2 separate regions of the Homo sapiens genome follow, and region 1 is linked to region 2. Evidence: fine-mapped expression QTL. A gene starts in region 2. The other region holds a variant in brackets. All regions are shown on one strand. Distances are between the middles of the regions. Region 1 has its middle 4.3 kb from the start of TMT1B. Region 2 holds the start of ITGA7 (integrin subunit alpha 7).

The links.
Region 1: its variant is fine-mapped to the expression of ITGA7 in whole blood (GTEx, PIP above 0.99).

Annotation. Positions count from the first base shown.
Region 1 is chr12:55,673,254-55,681,590 of GRCh38, forward strand. No RefSeq gene overlaps it. Among named protein-coding and RNA genes, the nearest start is that of TMT1B, 4.3 kb to the right of the region's middle. RefSeq lists enhancers at 365-504, 8,142-8,337. The variant G/A (reference allele first, on the strand shown) is at 3,737.
Region 2 is chr12:55,704,391-55,712,727 of GRCh38, forward strand. ITGA7 (integrin subunit alpha 7) reads right to left here and starts at 3,514. Exons shown (of 25, transcript NM_002206.3): 1 at 3,087-3,514. The coding sequence starts at 3,292. RefSeq lists a silencer at 3,428-3,637.

The DNA of each region.
Region 1 (8,337 bases), 31 kb before region 2:
TTGTAGAGCTAACATGCTAGAGGAGACAGCCAATTTTAAAATATAGACAAGCCAGGCCTGGTGGTGCACACCTGTAGTCCCAGGTACTCAGGAGGCTGAGGCAGGAGGATCCCTTGAGGGCAGGAGTTCGAGGCCACAGTGCTGTAATCACACATATGAATAGCCACTGCACTCCAGCCTACACAACAGAGTGATACACCATCTATAAAATTAAATTAAAATATAGAAAAATTTAAAAGCTTAAATGTGATAAAGGTATTCATCATCTATTTGACATACACATTTTTAGTGTCTACTACTTGCCAGGCACATGCTAGATGCTAAACACGTGGTGATAAGGGAAAAGGACACAATCCTTACTGTTATGGAGCTCATGGGCAGACACTAATACCATAATAACAGTCATGAACAGTATCACAAACTGGCCTAAGGGCTGTTGACCAAAATGAATAAGGGAAGGGATGCTTGATACAAGAACCAAACAATGAGTTAAAAAATTAACTAGGCAGGAGGGAGGAGGGACTGCTGAAAAGAAAGCAAGCATATCAGGAAGAGGAAGACAAGCTCAACAGCACTGAAGCTAAAAGGAGTGAGAGTATGAGGAACTGAAAGAAGATTGTATAGCTAAAACACAGGGTTAAGGGAGGGTAGCATGAGAGGTGGACAGGGGCCAGATCACACAGGGCCTTATGGGCTACAGTAAGGAGTTCAGATTTTGTACCAAAGATAATGGGAATCCACTAAAAGGTTTTAAGCAGTGGGTGAAAGTGGAGAGACAGTTAATGAGGCCCTTGCAGTGGGCCAGGCAGCGGAGGGTCATGATCTGGTCTAGGGTTATGCCAGTGGAGATGAAAGAAATGCATGAAATTAATGAACTGGGAAATAGAGCTGACAGGACTTGTGAGTAACTTGAAAGTTATATATATATTGGCCGGGCGCGGTGGCTCACACCTGTAATCCCAGCACTTTTGGAGGCCAAGGCAGGCAGATCACGAGGTCAAGAGATCGAGACCATCCTGGTCAACATGGTGAAACCCTGTCTCTACTAAAAATACAAAAATTAGCTGGGTGTGGTGGTGCGTGCCTGTAGTCCCAGCTACTCAGGAGGCTGAGGCAGGAGAATTGCTTGAACCCAGGAGGCGGAGGTTGCAGTGAGCCGAGATCGCCCCACTGCACTCCAGCCTAGCAAAAGAGCGGGACTCTGCCTCAAAAAAAAAGAAAAGAAAAGAAAGTCATATATATGTTATAGAGAGATACAGATGGAGATGAAATGACATGATGTTTGGGATTTGCTTCAAAATGACACACAGGAGAAGGAAGCAGAAAGTAGAAAAGGATGTGGATGGGGAAGGATTGGCTGTGGGTTGATAGTTGTTGGGATGAATGATGTATACATGGGGGTATCTTATACTGTTCTGCCAACTTTTGTGTATATTCAAAATTCTCCATTATACAAAGTTAGAAATGAGAAAAGAAAAGGAGGAGACAGAGAAGAAATAGAATAAATCCTAGGTTTTTGGTTGAGCAATCAAGAAGCTAATGGTGCCATTCACTGAGATGATGAAGAAGATGGGCAGAGTAAGACAAGAGACTTGGGGAGTACCGTAAGTGTCATTTTGGACATGTTAAGTTTTATATGTCCAGAAGATATGCTGAGGAGGAGGATCAAGTACACAACTGGGTATACAAATTTGAAACTCAAAGGAAGGATCTGCACTAAAGATATAAATGTGTGAATAATTTGCATATACATGGCATTTTAAACCATGAAAATGGATGGGATTTGGTGAAAATTATGTGTCAATGTAGGTTCATCAATTGTAATAAATGTCCACTCTGGTGGGGGATACTGATAATGAGGAAGGCTAGTCATGTGTGAGGACAAAGGGTATGTGGAAAATCTCTGTACTTTCCTCAACTTTTCTATGAAGCTAAAACTGCTCTAAAAAATAAAGTCTATATTAAAAAAAAAAAGATGAGGTTATTTAATGAGAGAATTTAGACAGAGAAAGACCCAAGACTAAACCCAAAGAAACAAAATTTAAAGGTCGAGTAGATGAGAAAGATCTAAAAAAAGAAGTTTCTAAGAAGTAACAGCCACGGGAATGTTATAGAAACAAGAAGACTGTTATGTTAGGACAGCCTAGATGAGAGAATTTTTCAAGAAGAAATAGTAGCCAACTATTTCTGAAGCTGTTGAAAAGTCAGATAAGATGAGAACAGGGAATATTCACTGGACCTGGCATGTGGAAATAATTAATAGGCTTGATAATAATAGTTTCGGGTTTCTTTGTTTTGTTTTGTTTTGTTTTTAGAGACAGGGTCTCTCTCTGTCTCCCAGGCTGGAGTACACTGACCCAGTCATGGTTCACTGTAACCCTGAACTTGCAGGCTCAAGCAATCCCCTTGCCTCTGCCTCCTAAGTAGCTGGGGCTACAGGCGCATGCCACCACACCCGGCTAATTGGCTAATTTTTTTATTTTTTGTAGAGAAAAACAACAGCCTATGTTGCCCAAGCTGGTCTCAAACTCCTGGGCTCAAGCAGTCATTTCCTCTCGGCCTCCCAAAGTACTTGGATTACAGGCACGAGCCACCACGCCCGCCCAAAGTCATAATTCTTGAGTCATCTGCTCGTGTTATCTTGGTTTCCTCACCTTCCATTCACTCTTTCTCCCACTCCAATCCATCACTAATAAAAATTTCTTGGGCTTGGCACAGTAGCTCACGCCTGTAATCCCAGCACTTTGGGAGACCAAGACAGGAGGATGGCTTGAGGCCAGGAGTTCAAGATCAGCCTGGGCAACCCTGAGAGATACCCTGTCTCTACAAAAATTTTTAAAAGTTAGTAGGCATGGTGGTATGCACCTATAGTCCTAGCTACTCAAGAGGCTGAAGCAGGAAGGGCAGCACAACCCCAGGAGTTTGAGGCTGCAGTGAGTCAGAATGGTGCACTCCAGCCTAGGCAACAGAGCAAGATCCTGCCAAAAAAAAAAGACTTTGACATAGATTTGTAAAATGGAGTTTTAGCTAAAGTGACATGTGGTGTCAAGAGGGTCAGTTTATTATTAACCTGAAATATATTAGAGCATATTCATATTTTGAAAGATCCATGGAAAGGCAGAGATTAATGATTTAGGAGAAAGAAAGATAAAATGAAGACAAGAATTCATAGCAGCATTGTTTATAGTACCCCAAAAGTGGAAACAACCCAAATGTCTATCAACTGTTGAATAAATAAACAAAATGTGGCATATCTGTACAATGCAATGCTACTTGGACGTAAAAGGAATGAAGTATTGATACATGCTACAACATGTGTAAACTTTGGAAGCATTATGCTGTGTGAAAAGCCAGTCACATAGGCCACATGTAGTATGATTCCAATTACATGAAATGTCAAGAATAAGTAAATCCATACAGACATAAGTAGAGTAGTGATTGCCTACGGAAAGGAAATTGATGGTACTGGGGTTGGGATGGGGATGGGGGAAATGGGAGTAAGTGGTAAAAGCACAAGTTTCTTTTGGGGTAACGAAAATGTTCTAAAATTGATTGTGGTGGCTGGTTGCACAACTCTGAATATACAGTCACATGTTAAGTCATATGTTGCTTAACAACAGGAATAAGTTCCGAGAAATGCATCGTTAGGTGATTTTACCATTACGGGAACATCATCATAGAGTGTCCTTACACAAGCTTGGATGGTGTAGCCTACTATACAGCTAGGCTATATGGC[G/A]TAACCTATTGCTCCTAGGCTGCAAGCCTGTACAGCATGTTACTGTACTCAATACTATAGGCAATTGTAACACCATGTTAAGTATTTATGTATCTAAACGTGGAAAAGGTGTGGTAAAAAATACAGTATAAAAGATTTAAAAACGGCATACCTATATAGGGCACATATCATGAATGGACTTTGCAGGACAAGAAGTTGCTCTGGGTGAGTCAGTGAGTGACTACACTAAATTTATTTACATTTTTTTTTTCTTTTCTTCAATAATAAACTAGCCTTAGCTTACTGCAACTTTTTTACTTTATAAACTTTTTAATTTTTTTAACTTTGACTCTTGTAATAACACTTAGCTTAAAACATAAATATTCTACAGCTGTACAAAAATATTTTATTTCTTTATATCCTTATTCTATAAGCTTTTTCTATTTTTTAAATTTTTTTAACTTTTTTGTTAAAAGCTAAGACACAAAGACACACATTAGCCTAGGTCTACACAAGGTCAGGATCATCAAGACATCACTACAGGACAGGGATTTTTCAGCTACATAATAATCTTATGGTACCTCCATCATATATGTGCTCTGTCATTGAGCTAAATGTGTTATGCAGCACATGGCTGTACAGTTGACCCTTGAACAACTCAGGACCTAGGGGACTGATACCCCTCACAATTGAAAATCTGTGTATCTGCAGGGTGGGGAACACCACACATTGGGGCCTGTCGTGGGGTGGGGTGGGGGGAAGGATAGCATTAGGAGATATACCTAATGTAAATGACCAGCTAATGGGTGCAGCACACCAACATGGTACATGTATACATATGTAACAAACCTGCACGTTGTGCACATGTACCCTAGAACTTAAAGTGTAATTAAAAAAAGAAAATTTAAAAAAATATATATGTGTGTCTGGCCAGGCATGGTGGCTCACGCCTGCAATCCCAGCACTTTCAGAGGCCGAGGAGGGTGGATCACGAGGTCAGGAGATCGAGACCATCCTCACTAACTCGGTGAAAACCCATCTCTACTAAAAATACAAAAAAAAATTAGCCGGGCGTGGTGGCGGGCGCCTGTAGTTCCAGCTACTCGGGAGGCTGAGACAGGAGAATGGCATGAACCCGGGAGGCAGAGCTTGCAGTGAGCAGAGATCATGCCACTGCACTCCAGCCTGGGTGACAGAGCAAGACTCCGTCTCAAAAAAAAGAAAAATTAGCTGGGCATGTTGGCATATACCTGTGGTGACCACTACTCAGGAGGCTAAGGTGGGAGGATTGCTTGAGCCTGAGAGGTTGAGGCTGCAGTGAGCTGTGATCGCACACTACACTCCAGCCTGAGTGACAGAGCAAGGCTATCTCAAAAATAAAAAATAAAATGAAAATTTCTAGAAAAGGAAATACAGAGGCTCTTAATTATAAGAAACAAAAATTCAACCTCACGCAGAAAAGAGTAAGTAAGCCGGGCACGGCAGCTCATACCTGTAATCCCAGCACTTTGGGAGGCCGAGGCTGGTGGATCACCTGAGGTCAGGAGTTCGAGACCAGCCTGGCCAACATGGTAAAACCCTGTCTCTACTAAAAATACAAAAATTAGCCAAGTGTGGTGGCATGCGCCTGTAATCCCAGCTACTCGGGAGGCTGAGGAGGGAGAATCGCTTGAATCCGGGAGTCGGAGGTTGCAGCAAGCCGAGATAGTGCCACTGCACTTCAGCCTGGGCGACAGAGTGAGACTCTGTCTCAGGAAAAAAAAAAAAAAAAAAGGAAAAGAAAAAGAAAAGAGCAAATAAAAAGCACAGGATAATACTACTTTGCCTCTTTCTGTGTCCATGGAGCAGGCCCAGGAGCAATTACTCCCCAGTGATAATCACATCCAGCATTCAGATCTTGGTTTTTAAATACCATCCTCCTCACAAAAGACCAGTGCTTCTTTGAGAAATAACTAAGTTCGGGGCTGGAGCAGGGGAAATACAAGATGAGCCTGGAACATCTTCTTGTAGCAGAAAGTAAGAAAATGCTCAAAGAGTGATGGAGTTGTGTCAAAAGGAGACAGGAGCCAGCTTGCAGGTGCTCCCCCAGCCAAATCTAGGGCAATTTGAACATCAAAATACACACCCAGGTATTCACCCAAGAGAAATAAAAGCATACGTCCACACAAACCCATGTACACAAACAGTTCATAGTAGCTTTATTTCTAACAGTCAGAAATTGGAAACAACCCAAACGTTTATCAACAAGTGAATGGATAAAAATATATGTGGTATATCCATACAATGGAATACTACTCAGAAATGGAAATGAACTGCGGATGCATGTACAACATGGATGACTCTCCAAATAAACATGCTGAATGAAATAAGCCAGATGCTGAAATCCCATACATTATAGGATTCCATTTACACAAAATTCCAGAAAATGCAAACTATTTGGGAGGCCAAGGTAGGCGGATCACCCGAGGTCAGGAGTTTGAGACCAGCCTGGTCAATATGGTGAAACACCGTCTCTACTAAAAATACAAAAATTAGCCGGGCATGGTGGTGCATGCTTGTAATCCCAGCTACTCAGGAGGCTGAGGCAGGAGAATCACTTGAACCTGGGAGGTGGAGGTTGCAATGAGCCAAGATCAAACAACTGCACTCCAGCCTGGGCCACAGAGTGAGACTCTGCCTGAGAAGAGAAGAGAAGAGAAATTAATCTATACTGACAGAGAGCAGATCAGCGGTTACCTGAAGATGGGGATGAAAGAGGGGCGAATGGATTACAAAGAAACACAAGGAAACTGATATAGTTTGGATGTTTGTCCCCTCCAAATCTCATGTTGAAATGTAATCCTCAATGTCAGAGGTGGGGCCTGGTGGGATGTGTTTGGCTCCTGAGGTCCCAACCCCTCATCAGTGGCTCAGTGCCAACCCCTTGGTGATGAGTGAGTTCTCGCTCTGGCAGTTCACGCAAGGTCTCTCTTGCTCCCTCTCTTGCCATGTGATACACTGCTCCCCTTCGTCTTCCACCATGATTGTAAGCTCCCTGAGACCCTCACCAGAGGCCAAGCAGATACTGGTGCCATGCTTCCTGTGCAGTCTGCAGAACTATGAACCAATTAAACTTTTTTTCTTTATAAATCAACCAGCCTTAGGTATTTCTTAACAGCAATGCAAAAGCCTAACACATAGACATGTTCATTATCTCGACTGTGGTAATGGTTTCCCAGGTATATACTGTGTCAAAAATAATCTATATACTGTAAATATGTAAACCTTCTTATATATATTATACCTCAAAGAAACTGTAAATAAATAAATAGGGTATTAGGTTACAAATCAGTGAATAAAATAGGAATCTATGCATCAATAATAATATGAACACATAAAAGACACATAAAACCAAATATTGCTGGTGGACGTGTAAATGGGTACAATCACTTTGGAAACCCATTTGCTATTATCTACTAAATCCAATACATTGTTAAGAAGGGGGGGAAGCAAGGTATACAAGAGTGTGTACAATATACTACTATTTGTAAAAGAAAAGGGAATATGTATATGTATATATGTACATGGATCTAAACACGTGGTGTGTGTGTTCCCTGCTCGTTCACAGGTCATCTCTGGAAGGATTCACAAGAAATTGGCAATATGGCATTTAGTGCCTCCAGAGAGGAGATCTGAGTGGTTGGGTCACAGGAGTAGAAGAGAGAATTTTCCCTGTAATCTCTTTAGTATCTTTTTAATTTTGTACTAAGTGAATGTACTGCCTCTTCCAAAAAAAGTTGTTTAATAATGTTTTGTAAAAAGAATTCTTCTCAGCCAGGCGCAGTGGCTCCCAACTGTAATCCCAGCACTTTGGGAAGTCGAGGTGGGTGGATCACCTGAGCCCAGGAGTTCAAGACCAACCTGGGCAACAGGGTGAAACCCTGTCTCTACAAATTACAGAAAAAAAAAAATTGCTGGGCATGGTGGTATGCACTTGTAGTCCCAGAAAATCAGGAGGCTGGTGTAAGAGGATCACTTGAGCCTAGGGACATTGAGGTTGCAGTGAGCCCAGACTGCTGCCACTGCACCCCAGCCTGGGCAGCAGAGACCCTGTCTCAAAAAAAGGAAAGAAGGAAAGAAGGGAGGAAGGGAGGGAGGGAGGGAAGGATCTCTAAAAAGTGGCTATTCTCTGACCTCACTTCCCCCTATTTGTCCAACTTACCCCATTCCCCACAGAACTAAACTTCTCACCCTTTCCAGGAGAGGGCATGCTGTCTCTGTCCTGTACACCTACTTTTTCCTCTGCCAAGAGCACCCTTCCCTTCCTATGGCCCCTCTGAAGTGCCTGACCTGAGGACGAAATGAGGCCAGGATATGTCCCATGAGTCAACTCTGTCCCCAGCATTCACCACTACCAACCCACCCCCAACGCCCTGCCAGCCCCCGACACTCCCCCGCCATGAGTCTGTCATCTGAAACATATCCCCTTACCCCTTCCCACTCCCTCTGAGATGACTCAGCAGCCCCTGCCCCCCTTCAGCTGGGCACAGTGCCCCAGAACTCAGGAACATGGGTACCACCTGTCCCTCCGCCCACATAAAAGTCATTGAAGAGCTTGTGGGGCTGTGGGACCTGCGCCCTCT
Region 2 (8,337 bases):
AAGGGGTATAGGGAGTAGTAGAGAAGAGAAGACACATTTGGCATTCAACTACTTATTGAGAGTCTATTGTATGCCAAGCCCTGTGTCAGGCGCTGGTGAGACAAGGAAATCATATTTATTCAGCACCTACTATGACGTCAGATCCGAGGCTAGACACCAGGGATATAAGAAACTAACATTCATCACTGTCCACATATGTGCCAAGCACCAGGATAGGCAAGTCACATGCATTATGTCATTTAATCATCAGAACAATCCTATGAGATAAGGATTCTTTTCTTGTCTTTCAGATGAGAAAACTCACTCAAAGACATTAAGCAGTGATGCTGGAATTCAAATCCACATGGGCCTAACTCCAACACTTTGTCACTCCACCCAGTGACTGACCTGTCTCTAGAACACTGAGACCACCCCAGAAAGGGAAGGAGAGAGTGGGGAGATGAGGGTACCCTGGGCAGAAAAGGAAACGGGGTGATACAGCCCTGCATAAATAAATGGCAACCTTCAGGCAAGTCAGCAGTACCCCCAGCCTCCAAACATAGAAGTGGCCATCTCTCTGAGTGTCGGGGCTGTCTTTTCATCTTTGTGCTTGCCCCATAGGGAGTGTCAGAATGTGTTTACTGAACACACACATTTTGTGGACTCATAGAGATACCCAGTGTCACAGCTGGTCAGTGCATAGCTAAGCACCCAGATAAGTTATCCTTGTTCTATGTTCACATCTCCTCTGGAGGCCAAAAGTAGGGAGGAGGGGAGGGGCCCATGTGGAAGAAAGAAGCTGAGTGCATAGATATGCCCAGTCCGCTCTTGGTGGAGAAGAGACCAATCGATCCTTAGTGGAACAAGAGCACCCAGCAGCATCCTCTCTAGTCCCTCCACCTCTGGTCCAGCCACACACACTCCTTCCTGGCTTCATGCCATACGCCCTAACCACCCCAGTCTTCTGGACAGCCACAGTGTAGCCACTGCAGAGAGAAAAGCAAAAAAAAAAAAAAAAAAGTGTTGGCAGCTGGGGGGCAGAGGGACCCCCTGGGAGCTCAGCTAAGTGAAGACAAAGGAGTAGCCCACGACCACTGCACTTCTCGATTCTCCACACACTCCAGGGCCCCAGCCCAAGTCCAGCCCCTCTTTGGCCCCTCTCAATCTGGGTGGCCCTCTGGGGAGGATGCTTGGCCTGGAAGGCTGGCTCAGCCAGGGAGGCCCTCTAGCCAAGCCTTTGGATCCAGAATCTCTGTAAGGCGCTCTGTGAATCACAATACAAGAATAGCAATACTACTAACACTTCACAGCACTCACTGCGGGCTATGCACTATTCTAAGCATTTTATATATATTAAGAACTCTTAATCTGCACAACAACCCTATGTAGTAATACTATGTTTATATCCTTTTTACAGTTGAGGGAAGTAAATGAGGCTGGAACCACACAGCAAAGGTTAGACCTTAAAGTCTCATCCCAGAGCTAGACTAAAAGACATCAAAACAGGCAAGAAGTTTTTTTCATCAGTGAGTGCTAAGGCAGGCCACCTGCAACTCAAAAGCTAGGGACTGAGCAGGTGCCTGGCCTCTCACATACCCCCCGCCCCCCAGCAGCAGAGCACCCCCTGCTGGAGCAAAAGCAGGGTGAGGCAGTCAGGCCCTCTGGGAAAGGCCCCAGCTTGGCTCTGGGAGACGGAACCAGGGGCCACCTTCAGAGAGGAGGGGGAAATGACAAGAGACCAAGCTATTAAAAATAACCTAGAATTTGCCTGGAAATAGCTTAGAGAGTTCAGCATGTCCTAAAAAGGCCTCCAGTCCTCGAACTCTGACAGATGGAGAAGGAGGGAGGAAGGGAGGGAGGGAGCAAAGGTGAATGAGGAAGCAGATGGTAAACAGAAGAGGAGATGAAGTCCGTTGCTTTCTATCTCTCCCAAAGTTTTGGGGACCACCGACCCTGCTACCAGATGATAGGGATAATGGAAGAAGAAAGATTAGAGCTAGGCCCCCACTCCCCAAGCAAGTGAGGAGAAATGAGCTCTTGTCCCTGCCCCCTGCCCCCAGACCGACAGTAGAGGCAGAAGACAGTCCCAGTGGACAGCATTGATCCCAGTAATGGATACTTAATGTGGCTTAGGCACTGGTTGAAGAGAGAAAAGCCCCCTAGCAGGAGCAGGTGAGAAGCTTTCTTCACCTCTGGCCTCCCTTTTTACAATCAGACATGTAGCAAGAGCCAAGGATACAGGCAACATGACCAGTCACAGGCCCCTCACAAAAGTATATCCATCTCCCATGGGTCCTGAACTGATTAGAAAAAATTAGAATTGTCCTCCACCCCTTACTCCTCCTGGCCCTTCCCAGCTGCTGAGATTCCTGGAGTTGGAAATTTGCTAAGGAGGAGGAAGGGGAGCAGCCTGGCCAGCATCCTTCCTGGATCTCTCTCACTGCTACAGCTGCTGCGGCTACTACTACTGCTACTAGTACTTTGAGGGTTCAGTTTGCTGCCACTCTCTATCACCAAGCCACCTACTGCAGGTTGGCAGACCTGCAGATCCTCTCCCAATCTTCCCGTGGTCTTAAGCCACAGAAGTGGAAGCTCTCTCCTGGCCTTCCAGTGCCCTGCTGCCCTCATTCCATCCATGGCAATGCTCTAGCAGGAAGTTATTTCTGGAGTCTGCCCTGCATGCATCCCTCTCATGGCACCCTCAACTTCTATGTCCTTTCCATCTCCTCCCATTCTAAGCAGAGACAGACAGTCTCCCTCCCTTGGGGAATTCAGCCCTTGGAAGAAGCAGGGGAGCCAGAGGCCCTGGGGCTGGATCAAGGATGCAAGTTGGGGGAAAGGCCCAGAAGAAGGAGATGGTTCGCTGCCAAGACAAGAACCTTGCTTTCCAACTCATCCCTAAAGCAAAATACTGGTCTCAGGGCCGGGAAGTGCAGCTTCAGACGCAAGCCAGATGAGGCAAGGCTCCAGGTTGGGATGTGGGATGTCTGTGGGCAGTCTAGGTCTTGGTGGGGCTAGAAAACAGAGAAATGAGGAGGCCCACAGAGTGGGGAGGGGGACGATCTGTGGCTCGGGCATGGCGACTCTGGGCGGGTGCGGTGACTCACCAGCTCTGGGGTCGGGGCTGCAACTGCCGGTGCAGGGCCACAGAGAAGCCGAAGAGGCTGCCTGGCTCGCCCTCCTTGCGCAAGGCACCCATCACGTCCAGATTGAAGGCGACAGCCCGTGAGAAGAGCAGTTCGACGAGCAGGGAGCCAAAAAGGTAGCAAATCCCGGAGGCCCCCCAAGGGTCGCGGCTCCGAGCCCCGGCCATGGGACGATCCCTGCGCGAGCTCCCAGCGAATGCAAGGGAAATCTCGCACGCCCCAAGCCCCAGGTCCCCCCAGGCGCGTCTCTGGTCTCCAAAGTCTCGTTGGTCTTTCAGACGTCTCCCAGACGTTCGCCCCGCCAGCCCTCCCGCCCGCCCGCCGCTCCGCCACCCCGCCGCCCCAGCACCGGCTAGGACAACTACAGCAGCCGCAGCTCCGGCGCCCACTCCGGCTCCCGCCTCCTCTCCCGGGGACGCCACTCAGGCCCCGCCTCCGGCCCCGCCCCTCGCTCCCGCGGCAGGTGGAGACCCAAGCCCGTCTCCAAGGGGATGCCCAGGCTGGTGGCTGGGATGGAAACTAGCCTTGCTGACCCCCCACCACCACGCCCCCCAAGCCCAGCACCGTCTCCGGCTCCGCCCCTGCGCGGCGCTCTCCTCCCCTTCTCCCCCAACCCCATCCCCACCCCGGGAGTGGTGGAGGCGGCGCCTTGGAATGCGGAGGGAGAGAAGTACAGATAGAAAGAGAGGGGCTGAAACAGAGGAAGGAGGGTAAGAGATGAGAAGTTGGGAAGACGCTAAAAGACAACCTGGGAAGAGAGATGTGCAGATAGAGAGGAAATGAAAGGGGAGCCGTCCTGGGCCTGGGTGCAGCGTGGCATCTTAGTGCTCCCTGTTCCCCCATGGTCACATAGAGCACTCTTTCTGCTGTTGGGATCAGACCGCTGCCCTCCCCCATCCTATCCCATCCCCCGCCCCCAGCCCGGCAATGACCACAGCAGTGCTAGCCACATCGTCAGGATTCAAGGGAACAGAGAAAAAGAGGCAAGAAGAGAGAGAGAAACTCGGGAGATACGGGGAGCAAATGGAGAAATGGAAAAAGGAAAGGAATAGAGAGGAAGAAAGAAGGGCAAGAGATTAATTGACAAGGGATGGAATGAAGGGAGAAAAGAAAACGACTGGGGATGATTACAGGAAGAGGAAATTAAGCAGTGGGGAGGGGAGTGGGTGTCAAAGAAGGCAAAGATGAAAGAGACTGGACCCAAGAGGCAGAGGGATGTAAAGGGTGTCCCCAGCTACCAGACCCGTCCCAGGACTGCACATTTCCTATCCATGAAAGGGGATGGGAGGGGGCAGAGTCCTGGACTGGCTCAGCAGGACCTGGGTGGGGCTGAGATGGGATCTCCACAGGGACCCATTGGCCTGTCCCTCTTCCTCTCCCTTTCCCTCAGGCTGGGACAGAGGCAAGGGGGTGGGGGGACACTTTCCAACTCTCTGCTATTTATAACTCCGATACAGAAATGGGGCCAGAAGGAGAGACAGGAAATAATTTGGCATAATGGGAACCTCGAATGCTCCCACTTCCCCTTCCTACTCCCCTTGCTTACTGGTGTTGGTCTTGTGAATATACATCTGTCCATCTTCCCTTCTCTCTCTCACTATCTGATTTTGTCTCATCCCAAATTCTATTTTGTCATCATTCTTGTCTCTGCCACACTTGGAATCTTTCTCAGAGTATTTCTCAATGTTTCTAGTGTTGTCTCTGCCCTTCAAACACTATCATATTCTTACGATTCTTTCTTCTCTTTCCCTTTCTTAAAAGTTCCAATAAGTGTCCTACCTCCTTCCTCTTCCTGTGTTCTGTCTTTCCTACTTCATTGTTCAGGATTATACTTCTTTGAAAACAAAAAAAAAGTGGGTTCTTACTCTGCTGCCCTGGGACAGTCTTTGCCTTGGATAAGTTAACAGACATTTGGAAGTCTGGCCCTCTGTTTTCCAATACTACACCTGTGGCTATCCCCTCCAGAGCACTAACACATCTCTAAACAGGTACTATAAGGAAATACATATGCTGTCAGCAGGGCTGGCACCAGGATTCTACTTTCACCATGCCCTCCCCATCCTTTTTAATATCTCAGAGCCCCAGACAGTAGAGAAGAGCTGACATGGGAATGCAGAATTGCAAAATTAGGACAGAACTGGGACTACTGACTCCCTGCCCAGGTCCCCCCGCCCCCGACCCAGCTCAAAATGCCTTTAGAGCCCAAGCTGCCTCCTATCTGCACCTGCAGCTTCTGCCTGTCTCCATTCCCACTCCACTGGCTTCTGTGATCCAGGGCTGAAATCAGATGCCAAGAATCTGCTTCTGACCTCCTCTCTCCAAATATTTGAGAAGTCACCTCACCACCACAGGAGGAAAGATCAGGAAAGAAGAGAGAGAGAGGCCACCCAAAATTAGCCTGGCTATAAATAGAGGGGCAAAGGAGGGAGGGGAACACACAAGAGCGTGCTAGACCAGCCTAGTAAATTTAGACATGTAGATTTCTCTCAAGGAGAAATGAGACCAGAATGTTGGAGTGGAAGATAATATCGTAGGTGAAGAGGGAAATTAAGAAACTAGACGGGGCCGGGCGCGGTGGCTCACGCCTATAATCCCAGCACTTTGGGAGGCCGAAGCAGGCGGATCACCTGAGATCAGAAGTTCAAGACCAGCCGGACCAACACGGTGAAACCCTGTCTCTACTAAAAATACAAAAATTAGCCGGGTGTGGTGGCGGGTACCTGTAATCCCAGCTACTCCAGAGACTGAGGCACAAGAATCACTTAAACCCAGGAGACGGAGGTTGCAGTGAGCTGAGATGGCACCACTGCACTCCAGCCTGGGTGACAGAGACTCCACATCAGAAAAAAAGAAAAAAAAAAGAAACTAGAAGGATCCAGAGAATGCGGTAAGCTCAATATTAAAATAAATAAACTGTTAGAGAACTTCTTGTATTTCAGTCAAGAGCTTAGGAATTAGTTAAATTAAAAATTAATGCTGAGCTGGGCACAGTGGCTCATGCCTGCAATCCCAGCACTTTGAGAGGCCAAGGCAGGAGGATCACTTGAGCCCAGGAGTTGGAGACCAGCCTGGGCAACATAGGGAGACCCCCATCTCTACAAAAAATAGAAAAGTTAGCCAAATCTGTGGTCCCAGCTACTCAGGAGGCTAGGCGGGAGTGTCACTTGAGCCCAGGAGGTGAAGGCTGCAGTGAGCCATGATCTTGCCACTGCACTCCAGCCTGGGTGATAGAGTGAGACCCTGTCTCCAAACAAAAAATGCTGAAACTGTATTATTCCACTCGCATACCATTCTCAAAATGACAAAACTATAGAAATGAAGACCAGATTACTGGCTGCCAGGGGACAAGGATGGAGGGGGGTGGGGACAAACATAAAGGAATAGCACAAGGGGGTTCCTTTGTGGTGATGGGTTTTGTATCTTGATTGTGGTGGTGATTATCCAAATCTATACAAGATATAAAACTGCACAGAACTACAAACAAACAAATAAATGCATGTAAAAAATGGTGAAAACTGAGTGAGGTCTGCAGGCCAGTTAACAATACTGTACCAATATCAACTTTTTGGTTTTGATTTTATGCTACAGTTACATAAGATGTCACCATTAGGGGAAACTGAGTGAAAGGTACACAAGACTTCATGTGCTATTTTTACAACTTCCTCTGATCTATAATTATTTCAAAATAATTTCCAAGCCAGACATGGTAATCCCAGCACTTTGGGAGGGAGGGAGGTGGATCACTTGAGGTCAGGAGTTTGAGACCAGCCTGGCCAATATGACAAAAACCCATCTCTACTAAAAATACAAAAATCAGCTGGGCGTGGTGGTACACACCTGTAATCCCAGCTACTCAGGAGGCTGAGGCACAAGAATCGCTTGAACCCAGAAGGCGGAGCCTGCAGTGAGCAGAGATAGCACCACTGCACTCCAGCCTGGGGGACACAGTGAGACTCTGCCTCAAAAAAAAAAAAAAATTTAAAAATTTTGTGCTTCTAAGGATACCACTAACAAAGTAAAATGATAATCCATGGAATAGATTATCCACTCCACTCCATGGAATAGATTAATACACTGTACTTCAGCCTGGGCAACAGAGTGAGACTCTGTCTCAAAAAAAAAGAAAAAGAAAAAGAAATGTGGCTAGTATGACTGAGAAACTGAACTTTTTAAATAAATTAAATGTAAAAATGAAAGATTAATAATCTTTATAAAAATTTCCAAAATTTTAGACGTTGAGAAATGTCCAGATCCAGCCAAGATTTTAGCCCTTTAGCTTTTGTATGAGTGGAAGCTGAGGCTTTCTCCAGCTCCTTCCCTTTTCAACATCTTCTTCCCCACTTTGAGATCAGTATTTTTCAGCTCCCTCAAATCACACTTTTTGCAACTGTTGTCTCTAGCTTACAAGCAAACACTTCCAGAACACACACTTCAGGGCTAACTTCTCCCTCCACCTCATCTGGCAACAGAGCCTTGGAGCTTATGTCCCAAGGTCAGGCTTTTCCGTCCCAACATGCACACCATGAGAACTTTTTTACTTCACTCACCTCTCCAGCACTGGAATCCTTCTGCCTGCCTCTGAATTCTGGTTGTAGTCAAAGCTTGAACCATGGGAGTGGCTGGGAGGAAAAGAACATAAATGTGATTGAGGGAATTCAGTGGGGAAACAGCTTGACCGCTCCGGTCTTTGACGATCCAAAAGAAACCCTTAACACTTGAGAAGGACTGGGAGGTCACTTACCAAAGGGAGCCATTTGGACTGTCTCAAGGGCCCCCTTTCTTTGAGCACTGGCTTCAGGCCAACATTTGGAACTTAGCCACACCACCACCAACCCCCTCTCTTGAAGCCCAGCCAGATCTCCCAGTATGTGAAGCCTTGTCTACTCACTCTGTGTCCTCCCTCAGCCCTCATCCAACCCCTAACAACTCAGCAGCTTCCAGCCCTGTTTGGCCCAGCCAGTCAGTTTGGAGCTTGCTAATTAAAGCTAACTCTGAAAGAGACCTCAAAAGAAGAGGGAAATGAGTGAAGAAAGGAGTGTGGAGTTGCATTCATTCAGTCCAAGGGAAAATAATCTGAGTAGGAAATCGTAAGGAGAGGTGAGCAGAAAGAGACTTCAAATTTCAAGAGTCATTCTCCAGATAGATATGTATGCGACTTGTGTCCATCTCTACCAAGGACAAGTGAAGCTGAGCTTCAACTGCAGCAGAAACT